4 linked regions of the Homo sapiens genome follow. The protein of the gene in region 1 purifies or fractionates together with the protein of each later gene. This does not show direct contact. Each region holds a gene or a part of one and is shown on either strand. Other genes may lie near its edges.

Region 1 (2,624 bases):
AAATCAAAATAAATTATAAGGCTACTGTTTTAACATATATAAATGGCTAACTGTAAGAGCTAGTAAGGTAATTGGCTTAAGTTCTCATCAACAAGGTTGTAAAATGAAGCATTTAAAAAGCTGGGTTGATGAAGTATAACCATTCAAGTATCAACAAAATGATGATATGAATGTATAATATAAAAGTTTACACTTTCCTCACATGGAACTTTTATGATTTGGCATATTAAAAGCATAATTTTCTATAAATGCTATAAATCTAACATTAAGAATCAGATTTGGAATATAAATCCACTACTCATGACAATTACTATTCTTTAAAATGATAATTTTCCTAAATAAGAAAATTTCTAATGGAACTTATTTTTTCTGGACTTAAGAAACTCTATTAAACCTAAATTGTTATTAATTCAAAGCAGTCATAACATTGTGAATTCCAAAGTTCCCACCCACCAAATAAGTGATTCCTTGGAGAAAAAATATGTTCCTTTTTTTTTTCCCGCAAATACAAATTTTAAATAGCTAATAAGCTCACATTAAACTTCATGAGGCTTGTTTCCATTAGTGGTTGGCAAATCTCCTAATTCTTCACAAATGTCAAAGATGACTTGGAAAGAACTTTTTTGAAATTTGAAAAATCAGTATTTCCTTCTAGTATCTCTGAAAAACTAGCTCGGAAAGCAGAATGACGTACAGATTGAAACCAGGAGTACTGAGAGCGCCCACCAGTAGAGTTTAGGCGCTGAACATAAACATGCTTAGTAAATCCAATTACATTGCTTGTGGAAACAGAATGGGTAATCTGTTAGAACAGAAACAAGCAATTGAGAAGATGACATTAATGTCTTGAAGGTATTTTAGCTGCTTCTTACATATGCTGTCTATTAAAAGTGACATAACCATAAATAAATTAATTTTCTAAAATTTTCTATAAAATTCATTTATTTTCATTTGAAAGATGAAAATGTTTACAATAGTTGCTACAGGTGGCTTCGAGAAAGCTATAATCTAATTTTCACAAATTAATGTTTATCTGCATTTGTCAATTTTAATTGGCCAAACTACTTTGCATATATTCATTTTATCAACTAAATGCAGCTTCTCTCCCATTGGTTAAGATTAATGTTGATGAAAAACCTGTATAAATACACTAATAGATTTAGCCATAACTCTTTGATGTGTTAACTGAAGACTTTAAGCAACTTTAAAATATATATTTAATGAGTATTATTTATGTGTCTTACCTGCGGAAATTTTATAAATAAAAAGAAATCACTTATAAAACTCAAGAGCACTCACAATGTGCCAGGTACTGTTCTAAGCACTTTACATATAATAACTCGCTTAATCCTTATAACTACTTAAGACTCACTTTACAGACAACGAAATTGAAACAGATTGTTAATAACTTGCCAAAACACATACAGCTAGTAAATAGCAGAGCAAGGATTTGAACACTAGGGTTCCAGAGTCCATGCTCTTAATCACCACCCAAATTGCCCCTCAGTATATAACATCATCTGCAAAAATGCAGTTGAGAGAATAAGAAACTTGCTACAGGACACACAGCTAAGAAATGACAGTCACTTGCTTTTCTTAACTTCAGTAGGTTAATAATTTTATAAAGAACAGATATTTCACTCAAATACTTAGTAATAGTAGTATTAAATATCTAATAATAATTCTGAAACTGTTGGAAATTTGGATTGTTCAGGAAACACTTTAAATATACATACATATATATACAATATACATGAATTTAGAACTCGTATCATCCTCTGAAATACAGTTTCAGAGATTATATTCTACTCATCACAAAAATAGTAAAAGGAATAAAACTCGGTCTCTGCTATGTCATTGGAACCGATCTGTATAAACAGAATCATAGCTATTTACATTAGTAAAGTGACAGGCCAGATTGAAACGCGTTTCTTTTCTCAGAGATTTTAGAACATATTTCAATCCCAGTAAAATTTCCTATCAAATAAACTACACATTAAGTATGTCTCTAGTTCATTCATAGTAGGGTTTTCTCAGTTGCCTTTACCCAATAAAGAGGTTAGAGGTTTGGATATAAATATTTAAAAAATGACGTATGATAGGATGCCAAGGTTTAAAGTGCACTAGGGGAGAACTCCTCTCCCCTAGCATCATGCTTTCCATGCTGATTCTTCAGTGCTAGTGTACAGAGCTGTGCTGTCCTTCCAGGAGCCACTAGCCACTTGTGGCTATGAAACCCCTGAAACACAGCCAGTCTGAAATGCAGCCAGCTTTGTAAGTATAAGGTGCACCCCACATTTTTAAGACTTAGTACATAAGAAAGAATGAAAATATCTCACTGATAATTTTACATTGATTCGCATTCAAATGATAATATTTTAGCATACTGGGTTAAATAAAATTATTAAAATTTTTTTAAAATGGAAGAAATATTTCCAATTTTTAGAAGTTAACAAATTCCATAACAACTTCATAAATAAGTCATTTACCCCATTAAATCAAAATAACTTACTGCTAATGATGATGTGCTAGAAAGACGACTCATTACATGCTTATCATTGCTGGAAGGACTTCTTCCCTCCACTGAGCCGTGGGATGTCATAAGAGCCCTTCGAAGAGCTCTT
Region 2 (3,500 bases), on another chromosome or scaffold:
AATTAATTCAAACTGGAACAAAGACCAAAATGCAAGAGATAAGGCAATAAAAGTTTTGTTTTTTTTTTATTTTTAGAGATGGAGTCTCACTCTGTCACCCAGGCTGACGTGCAGTGGTGCAATCTTGGCTCACTGCAACCTCCGCCTTCCAGGTTCAAGCAATTCTCCTGCCTCAGCCTCCCGAGTAGCTGGGACTACAGGCGCGTGCTACCACACCCGACTAATTTTTGTATTTTTAGTAGTAGGTTTTGCCATGTTGGCCAGGCTGGTCTCGAACTCCTGACCTCAGGTGATCCACCCACCTCGGCCTCCCAAAGTGCTGGGATTACAGGCATGAGCCACTGTGCCCGGCCAGCAATAAAACTCTTAAGAAAACATACAGGTAAATCTTCACGACCCTGGATTTGGCAACAGATTATCTCAGATACAACACCAAAATGCAAGCAACAACAACAAAAATAAACTGGACTTCAACAAAATTTAAAACTTTTGTGAAAAAGAAACTTTAAAAGACAGTGGAAAAAACAAACTACAGAAATCAGAGAAAGTATCTGCAAATCATATATCTGATAAGGATCTAGTATCCAGACTATATCAAGACCTCTTACAACCCAACAATAAAAATACAACCCAGGCTGGGTGCGGTGGCTCACACCTATGATCCCAGCACTTTGGGAAGCCAAGACGGATGGATCACCTGAGGTGAGGATTTCGAGACCAGCCTGGCCAACATGGTGAAACCGCATCTCTACTAAAAATACAAAAATTAGCTGGGCATGGTGGCACTGTAGTCCCAGCCACTTGGGAGGCTGAGGCATGAGAATCGCTTGAATCCAGGAGGCAGAGGTTGCAGTGAGCCAATATCACGCCACTGCACTCCAGCCTGGCCAACAGAGTAAGACCCGGTCTCAAAAAAAAAAGAAAGAAAGAAAGAAAGAAAGAAAAAGACAACCCAGGCCAGGCACAGTGGCTCACACCTGTAATCCCAACACTTTGAGAGGCTGAGATGGGAGGATCACTTGAGGCCAGGAGCTGAAGACCAGCCTAGGTAACAAAGCGAGACCCCATCTCTACAAAAAATTTTTAAAAATTAGCTGAGTACAGTGGTGTATGCCTGCAGTCCTAGCTACTGGGGAGGCTGAGGAGGGAGGACTGCTTGAGTCCATGAGTTCAAGGTTACAGGGAGCGATGATCACACCATTGCACTCTAGCCTGGGTGACAGAGTGAGATTCCATCTCTCAACAGAAAGGAAGGAGAAAAGGAGACAAAAAAGACAAAATTTTACAATTTACCAAAAAAAAAGGAGGGGGAGGAATGATTACATTAACAGCAACAAAAATTCTGTGATACATGGGAAAAAGCCAAATCCTAAAGATTAAAATGAAGAAAATAATATTTTACTGTTATAGAATTAAATTAACCAACTAAATGGAGAGGCAAATCATATTACTTATTTGTTCACAAATATATTTCTAGCATCCAGAAAAATATCTGGCACTCAAGTGCTTAAATCTCAATATATTTCTTGAATGGAATGATTCAACACCATAAAGATGTCAAGTGTCACAAATAATCTATAAACTTAATGGACTCCCAATTGAAATCAATCTCAACTGATATTTACCTTGGCAAGTATTACATTTAAAAAAAAAAAGGAAAAATCTCAAATTGTTAAAATATCAAGAACATTAACATGCCCACAGATGTCTTCAGTTGCCTTTAAGTGATTCTCAAGCATTCTCAGCACCTGTAAGACATACATGAACGATGGTCAAACAGCTTGAGAAATGTCTCACAAATGCCTAAATCTAGTTTAGAAATCCCTAGGCCAGCAGTCCTCAAATTCATTCCCAAGGTCTCTTTAGGGAATCTAAACTATTTTAGGGGGTCAAAACTATTTTCAAAATAATACTAAGAGGATACTAGCCTTTTTCATTCTCATTTTCTCACAACTGTACAGGGGAGTTTTTCAGAAGCTAAATGATGTGTGATGATGCTGCAGATCAAATGCATAAGCAAATGTGAGGATCTATCTTCTATTAAGTCATATAATAGTGAAGATGTTTGCAAAAACGCTTAGCTCTTCTATTTTTGAAAATATGGTTATTTAATAATGTTATGTATCATAGTGTAAGTTTATTTTTATTTTTAAATTAAATATTTGAAGAACTTTTCAGTTTTAGTTTGTAATACCTGTAACTGGTAGATATAACCTACATACACAGAAGCCTTTTGTGTTCCTTAGGAATTTAAGAGTGTAAAGGAGTCTAGGACCAGAATTTGAGAATTGCTATTCTAACCTAACCACTGACACTCAGTTCCTTGGTAAAACAACACTCTGCCCACCTTATAGATCAACTGCAATACTGGAATAAACTTAGAAGCATAAATAAAGCACAACAAATGAGCAAGTAACATTAAAAGTAGCTGAATGAGTTCCCCACAGGGACAGCATGGAAGGCTAGAGAGGTTACTATCAACAAAAATCTATAATCTGTTTTCTTATTAATTTATAGCAAACTAGGACTTCTTCCCCTACCACTTCCTAAAGCGTCAGGATAGGAACAGGCTAGACCAAAAGAATTCTGATTATGCATCTTTTTTTGATGTAATTTATGCAGACAAGAGTTTCATTCAAATATATGCAAGTAAGAAATGAATTCCTTTATTAAACCTAGGCTATGTGTATTATATTTGTTTGATATGTGGATATTGAATCCTAGCCTTTGTCTCAACAAGTTTCCCGAGTCAACTGAAAAAGGTCAGGAAAACTTGCTGAACAAACACCACATCAAAATCTCATTCTTAGAATTACACAAACTGGGGCTGAGCGTGGTGAATCACACCTGTAATTCCAGGCCTTTGGGAGGCCAGGGTGGGAGGATCACTTGAGTTCAGGAGTTTGAAACCAGGCAGCCAACATGGTGAAACCCTGTCCCTACTAAAAACACAAAAATTAGCCAGGTGTTGGGCGCCTGTCATCCCAGCTACTTGAGAGGCTGAGGCAGGAGAATCGCTTGAGCCCAGGAGGCGGAGGTTGCAGTGAGTGGAGATCGCGCCACTGTACTCCACCCGGGGTGACAGAGCAAGACTCCATCTCAAAAAAAAAAAAGAAGATTTTTCACAAACTGGAACAGAATTCTAGAACTTGGTCTTTAAGCAAAATTCTAGAATTCTAAAAATACACAGACAAGAATAAATATCTTGATCACTGACACATGCTGTACAAATAAAATTAGGTAAGTTAAAATCTAATTTTAAATGAATACTGAGTGGCTAAGAAGTTAAAATAAGGATTAATTAAATATAAGAATTAAGGACAGTGAGTATTGTATGTTCTGTCCAAGAACTGAAAAGTGGCTCCATGCCTTCTCTTGATAACTAAATAAGCAGTTGTCATTTCTCACACAGTTCACACCTTGCCAGAAACATGCCTGACATAGCCAAGGAGGGGAGGTGGAATGACAGTAAAATCTTTAAAGTGTGGACCTTCACCCAG
Region 3 (3,500 bases), on another chromosome or scaffold:
AGGGGCAAAATATGCAGGTCTCTGGAGAGACTGAAGCATAAGACAGGTGCTGGGACATTCTTCTCAACCCTCTCTTGGGGAGCCTTCCAGACCACCTCAGCCCTGAGGGGCCTCCATGCACACACCACCTTAACACCCACCTTAAAGGAAAGGTCTCCATTCTCCTCCGAAAGCTGGTTGATTTTGCGATCCATCTGGCTCTTCTCTGTCTTCAGGTCCTGGCACTGCTTCAGGGTTTCATGCAGCCGCATGGTAAGGCTGCGAGGGAGGGAAGCAGTGAGAAGAGAGTATGGGTTCCTGGCTGGGTGAGGGGAGGGGCTGGGGCCTGGGAAGGAATGCAGGGAGAGCTGTACCTCTCATTCTTGTCACGCAGCTCCTCAAGCTCCTTGGGCTCCAGTGGGCTGGCCGCCTGCTTCTCATTCAGCAGGGCTAGGCGGTCAATGCGCTGCTGCATCATGGCTATCTGTGCATCTGCCCAGAGTGGAGGGAGGAGGAGAGGAGAATCAGAACTATGTGCATGAGCGGAACTATGTGCACAGAACTATGTGCACAAGGGGAAGGGAGGAGACGGCATAGGGAAGAGGAGGAATATGGTATCCAATCTAAGGGAAAGAGAAGATGGGGACAAAGACAGAACCTAGCTTCCAGGAGGTCAGCCTGACCACAGGCCCAGGGCTGAGCTCTCAGCTCCAGGGGCCAGCAGAGGGGACAACATGGGAGGCCAGGGGACATCCTTCCGGCAAGTCTATTCACACATCTGCCAGTGTGCCAGCCACCTACCCTTCTCGGTGAGGAGCTTGCGGTTCTCAGCTAGCTCCAGCTCCAGCTCATCCCTATTACTTCTCTCATCAGCAAGCTGCTTCTTCAGCCGTCTCATCTGGAACTGTGGGGTCTGCAGGATATCACCCATGGGAGAAGCTGGAGAACCTGAGAGAAAGCTGAGGAGGGAGAAGGCCCATATGCATTGGTAAGCGCCTAAGATCTGAAGCAATCAGCAACAGGCAGCAGTAAGGGAGCGGGGTCTATGGAAGTGCGCACTAGCAGCTGGGAGGCCTGTGCACCTGGGTTGTTTGCAGTGCTACCTCAAGCCTCATGACATGATCTTGGGAAAACTTTTCTTCTCACTGCCTTAATTTCTTTGTCAGAAAAAAAAAAAGTGATATATTCTCCTTGGCTCTGCAGAGATGTGCTAAGAGAAGAGACTTCATTGTAGTCTCCGAGGAAGAAGGGTATTCCATAAACAGGGAACAGCTTTTGAGGGAGGCCTTCTGCACATGACAAATCCCAACCACTTCCCCCAGTTAATACTGGGTGAGGTGAGGAGATCCCAGATCTACCGGATACTCTAAGCACTCCCAGAGGCTGGTTAACATCTTAACTCTAGAAGTTAGGAATGTGAGGAATGGATGGATGCTGAGGCCCTATCCCAGGAGGAGAGGCCCAGAACATACTTGTTCCCACTGGAAGAGGAGGCAACCTTCTGTAGCTCTAGGAAGCGAATCTCCCTCTTGGCCTGGTGGCTAGGTGGGGAGAGCTCTTCAGGGAATGTGCTAGAACAGGTAGAAGGCACAGGAGCTGGGGGTAAGAAATAGACAAAATAAATCAACAAAGGTTAGTAAGAAGGTGTAAAGATTTGCACCTTTATGCAATTTGAGAACTCGCCTTAGTGGGAGTATATCCATGGATACTTATATGTAAACTACCAAGGAAGGCACTGGGCAGAACCTGAAACCTGGTGCCTGGGTTATCCAGAGTTCCGTGTCTCTAACCAAAATGAAGTGCAGGGCTTCCATTTCTACAGAGCATCATTACTCAGAGCACAGTGGAGTGACGGTGTCCTCTGGCTCAGAAACTGCACCAAGTGCTCAAGCTTTTTCCTCGAGTCCACACTGCAGAGACGGCTTGGGGAGCCCTGAGCAGGATCTCCTTGCAGCCCCCAACAACCTTTCCTATCAGAGCCATTGGCCACCATTTGGAATTCATCCCCCCTGAAGCCTTGCACCTCCAAAATGCCCTCCTCCTCAAAACCCTTCTCTTTCCGTGGTTTCCGTGACCCCTTTTGTAGGACTCTCCTACCTCTAATCACCCATTCTTAAGTCTCCTCATCTGCTCCTCCCTCCTCTACCCACCCTCTAAGCTCCCAGAGATCTGATGGGGCCTCTTGGCTCTGCCCATAGTGCCCACGGCTTCAGTGGCCATCCAATGCTGACTTGCAAACCTATCTTCTGGTCCAGAGCCTGCTCCTGAATTCTGGACTCACATTTCTAACATCTCCACCTGAAGGTCTCATGAGGAACCTGAATACAAGGAACATCAAACTCAACGGCTAGAACTCGCCTAGACCTCCTTCTTACATTCCTATCATCCACCAGCTGACCTCTTCATCAGAAGACCAGCAGAACGATCACTCTTTCTACTGTAGTACCAGCCGAGGCCATTGATATATTCCGTACTTAGATTCCTTATCATTATTTCCTGGTTTATGTATCTGCCTTTCCACCTAGAACATGCACTACATGACGGGAAAAACATTTTTTAAAAGACTGTGGGCCGGGCGCAGTGGCTCATGCCTGTATTCCTAACACTTTGGGAGGCCGAGGCAGGTGGATCACCTGATGTCAGGAGTTCGAGACCAGCCTAATCAACATGGTGAAACCCCGTCTCTACAAAAAATACAAAAATTAGCCAGGTGTGGTGGCATGCGCCTGTAATCCCAGCTACTCGGGAGGCTAAGCAGGAGAATTGCTTGAACACGGGAAGTGGAGATTGCAGTGAGCTGAGATCGCACCACTACACTCCAGCCTGGGCGACAGAGAGAGACTCTGTCTCAAAAAAAAATAAAAATAAAAATAAAAAGACTGTATTCTCAGCTTCTAAGCCTAGAGTAATGATTGTTTAAAAAATAAAAAACAAAAGTAGGTATGATCACTTGTAAATATCCTACATAACTGCTGCCAGGCAGCAAGGAGGAGCTCCATAGGAACTGAGATGATACAACATGGCCCAGAAATCGACCTACTCCATTACACACACTTTTCCTGAGCATCAACTCTGCCTTGTGTTGGGGACAGAAACAAACCCCCACCATACTTGACAACTCAGGATCCTAGTATTCCCCATTTCAGAGATGAGGGGATTCTCAGGAGTGTGTACCTACTTACCTTTCTGTAGGAAGTTCTCTAGGTCCTCATTAAGGTTTAGCCCGTCCTCATGGTCCAGCACAAATTTAAGAATGACAGCCAACTCAGCCTGGGCCACAGGGAGAAAAAGAGCATCACTTAGGTGTTAGGCCTCTGAAGGGATGGCTGCCAGGAGCTCCACCCTGGCAGTGCCAGTCCCCGGCTCCCTCATGCCCTAGGAGCCTGCTGGATCCCATTCTCCCTCTCAGAGCTGAGGTCCTATGACCCAGCCAACAACATTCAACTAGAGATATGTTCACCCCACTTGTCCCCTTCCCTCCCACCTCCCCTCAAGATGTACCGAAGTCAGAGTTCCTGACT
Region 4 (3,500 bases), on another chromosome or scaffold:
TGCTGATTAAAAACAGAACAATGTTCAAGATGATAAAGTAACCAGGCATGATTAACATAAGAGCTTTCTCAGGGTCAAAGGAAGTTAACCTTCCTTGTGGATTTGGTTCCTTAACCTTTTAAAATGTCTGAACCCTACAGTGCTCTCATTTTTCTGTACATGCTCCATCAGCCAAGCCAAGATTTTAGGCTTAACTTTTTTTTTTTTTTTTTTGAGATGGGAGTTTCGCTCTTGTTGCCCAGGCTGGAGTGCAATGGTGCTATCTCGACTCACCACCACCTCTGCCTCCTGGGTTCAAGAGATTCTCTTGCCTCAGCCTCCTGAGTAGCTGGGATTACAGGCATGCGCCACCACCATACCCGGCTAATTTTGTATTTTTAGTAGAGACAGGGCTTCTCCATGTTGGTCAGGCTGGTCTCAAACTCCTGACCTCAGGTGATCCACCTGCCTCAGCCTTCCAAAGTGTTGGGATTACAGGCATGAGCTACCGCGCCTGGCCAGGCTTTACTTTCTATAGATGAAAATAAGTACGCTGAATGTGTACTTCCTAACTATTCAGTTTGCTTCTATGTACACAGTGAAATGTAAGAAAGAATGCCTGAAATGTTTCTCCAAGTATGGTTCCTGGACCACCAGCAGCATCACTTGGGAACTTGCTAGAAATGTACATTTTCCAGCCCCTTGAAGACCTATGAAATAAGACACTTTAGGGTAGCATCTAGCTCTCTGCTGGAGCAACCCTTCCAGGGAGACTCACGCCTGTGCAAGTTTGAGTACCACTGCCTCACAAGAGCTGATTTAGTCACATTTTGGTTTCAGAAAGAAAAAGTTATCATTTAGAATGTTTCTTCATCTCATTTCTTTTGCTATTTACTAGTTTATTTACTTTAATCACCTATGGAAATCTACCCAAATCCTTTTTTTTCCAGTGATTTTTACCATCACTGAAACCTGTGGCTAAGTAACCAAGGACTTCTTACTTCATTGCCATATCTTAATAATGTTTTTGGAATCCAGGTGAAGATTTTACCTCACCGGAAATGTCACCACAATCCTTTGCACTAAACAATGATCATTTTATGTTGATATAAATTCTCATACAGTTTTATTAACTACTAGCACAAGAAGGACACCTTCTTGACAAGGAAAACCCTACAGTGGTTAAGTTCAAACATGTTACACCATGACCCCCACTCCAAACCATCCCTCTTCTGGATCATGCTCCCAAAGCTAGTCTAGATAATCCTACTTCTTACTTTGTAGTCACAACAAACAATTGAGCCATCCTCTAAAATTAAGCATAAAACCCAGTTCTAGGGGATAAAAGCATAAACTGACTCCTGTTTACCTGTTGATACTGAGATCCAGGTGAATGGGGGTACAATGGGGCATCTTCAGGTGGAGGCGACTCATGTTCATCTGGAGCATCTTGGTCATCTGGCTCCTAATTTTGAATATTTCAAGATAAAAAATTACGTAGGCAAACTCAAGTTTACTTTTAACTTTTTCTATTTGAAATAAATTTTAAAAATCTACAAAACTGACCCATTAGCAACTTTTCTTTTACTGCAGATAAAGAACTTGGGGAAAAAACAAAAAAAAAAAAAACAAAACAAAAAACCTGATTTGCATTCTCTCAGAACTACTACATTTCAGGCAATTTCACAGAAATTTCTCCAAAAGAAAGCTCCCTTCATTAGCTTAAAATGACATAGAATAAACATTCTTTTCTTTTCTTTTTTTGAGATGGAGTTTCACTCTTGTCACCCAAGCTGGAGCCCACTGGCACGATCTCCGCTCACTGCAATCTGTGCCTCCTGGGTTCAAGTCATTCTCCAGCCTCAGCCTCCCAAGTAGCTGAGATTACAGGCGCCTGCCACCACGCCCGACTAATTTTTCTATTTTTAGTGGAGATGGGATTTCACCTTGTTGGCCAGGCTGGTCTTGAACTCCTGACCTCAGGTGATCCGCCTGCCTCGGCCTCCCAAAGTGTTGGGATTACAGGCGTGAGCCACCATGCCCAGCCGAATAAACATTTTTCAAAACCCAAAACTTCAACATAATCTTTTAATAATATCATTAATACATAAACACTGGCCTATAAAATAAAGAATTACTTTGCTCTCTTCCATTTCTATCTGCTGCACACTGGTGGCTTTTTTTACCTCCTCTGGACAGAGTTCACAAGCTTTTGCAAGTGTCATCCTAGCACTATGTGATCTCTCCAAGAAATAACCATTGGACGTTTCATTGCTTTGCACTGGGGGAGACCAATTGTTGTAAGTGTACTGAGGATTGCCAGTATATGGTCTTCTTTCAAGTTCATCTCCAAGCCATTCCACTGCCCAGGTCCACTTTCTTTTAAGATCTCCATTGCCCTGCAAAAGAAAATAAAACCATATAGATAAGAGGATTTGGAATACTTCAAAGTTAACTTAAAATGACAACCCCAAGTTCTCATGATTCTCTTCTTTTAAAACAGAATCCTTAATTCTGATTAAGATTTCTACAAAATTATAAGAAAAAAATCCTCACCTGCAGGATTTGGTAAGCAACAGGACAGTTACTAAATAGAGCTACCATACATTTTATACACTGGTATGCTCTTTTTTGATAGTGATTCTTAGAGCGCTGGATTGTGTCAAACAGCCCATCTCGGTCATCTGGAATTCCTTTCAGTGCATTATGAATTCTGAAAGAGAACCAGATATAAAATAAAAACATCTAAAATCTAATAGCTAATATATACTGAGTGCCTACTATGTGCCACTCAATAATGTCTTTTAGTCATTTAATCTAACATTAGACAATAGGTACTATTATTAAACCTTTATTTTTTATTTATTTATTTTTTTTGAGACGGCCTGGGCTGGAGTGCAGTGGCGCCATCTCGGCTTACTTCAAGTCCTGCCTCCCAGGTTCACGCCTCTCTCCTGCCTCAGCCCAACTACAGGCACGTGCCACCACGCCCAGCTAATTTTTTGTATTTTTAGTAGAGACGGGGTTTCACCGTGTTAGCCAGGATGGTCTCAATCTCCTGACCTCGTGATCCGCCTGCCTCGGCCTCCCAAAGTGCTGGGATTACAGGCATGAGCCACTGCGCCTGGCCTTATTATTAAAACTTTTAACAGGTGAGAAAATTGGCACAGAGTTACACAGCTTGCCGAGGTCATATAGCTGCGGAGCAGTGTGACTCCAGAGTCTGTGCTCTTACTAACTTATTACCAGTCCAAAATAATTCTGCCATATATGTAATTTAAACACATTACCTGAAGTGAATTCAGGACACTCGAGAGTAATGCAAACTTTAAAAAAGTTATAACTAAGTTTATGACTGCTGTAGTTGAGGGTAATTTGCTACACATCAATACCTTTTATAAAACTGCATCTCTGAAGGCAAGTTAGGATTCAGTGACATAATTTGGAGGTACAGTATTTGAATTCTAATAATGAGAATACATGGCAGGCAAAGCATTTTGACAGGCAATAGTACAATTTGG

The links. Proteins that work in one complex are often made in the same cells at the same time.
Region 2: the proteins of ECT2 (region 1) and EIF5B purify together in Homo sapiens (affinity purification with western blotting; 2 studies listed by BioGRID, with this or other methods). This does not show direct contact.
Region 3: the proteins of ECT2 (region 1) and NUMA1 purify together in Homo sapiens (affinity purification with mass spectrometry, with the first as the bait; 2 studies listed by BioGRID). This does not show direct contact.
Region 4: the proteins of ECT2 (region 1) and USP9X purify together in Homo sapiens (affinity purification with mass spectrometry, with the first as the bait; 2 studies listed by BioGRID). This does not show direct contact.

What each region holds. Positions count from the first base shown.
Region 1 is NC_000003.12:172,816,726-172,819,349, reverse strand, and holds part of ECT2 (protein ECT2), read right to left. Parts: coding exon 2,513-2,624; intron 803-2,512; coding exon of another isoform or gene 581-802; exon of another isoform or gene 536-580; intron 1-535. UniProt on the Homo sapiens protein: Guanine nucleotide exchange factor (GEF) that catalyzes the exchange of GDP for GTP. Promotes guanine nucleotide exchange on the Rho family members of small GTPases, like RHOA, RHOC, RAC1 and CDC42.
Region 2 is NC_000002.12:99,340,389-99,343,888, reverse strand, and holds part of EIF5B (eukaryotic translation initiation factor 5B), read right to left. Parts: intron 1-3,500. UniProt on the Homo sapiens protein: Plays a role in translation initiation.
Region 3 is NC_000011.10:72,018,043-72,021,542, forward strand, and holds part of NUMA1 (nuclear mitotic apparatus protein 1), read right to left. Parts: intron 3,250-3,500; coding exon 3,162-3,249; intron 2,878-3,161; exon of another isoform or gene 2,284-2,877; intron 1,576-2,283; coding exon 1,452-1,575; intron 968-1,451; exon of another isoform or gene 939-967; coding exon 781-938; intron 472-780; coding exon 354-471; intron 259-353; coding exon 141-258; exon of another isoform or gene 1-140. UniProt on the Homo sapiens protein: Microtubule (MT)-binding protein that plays a role in the formation and maintenance of the spindle poles and the alignement and the segregation of chromosomes during mitotic cell division.
Region 4 is NC_000023.11:41,228,445-41,231,944, reverse strand, and holds part of USP9X (ubiquitin carboxyl-terminal hydrolase 9X), read right to left. Parts: intron 2,693-3,500; coding exon 2,536-2,692; intron 2,379-2,535; coding exon 2,166-2,378; coding exon of another isoform or gene 2,118-2,165; intron 1,445-2,117; coding exon 1,349-1,444; intron 1-1,348.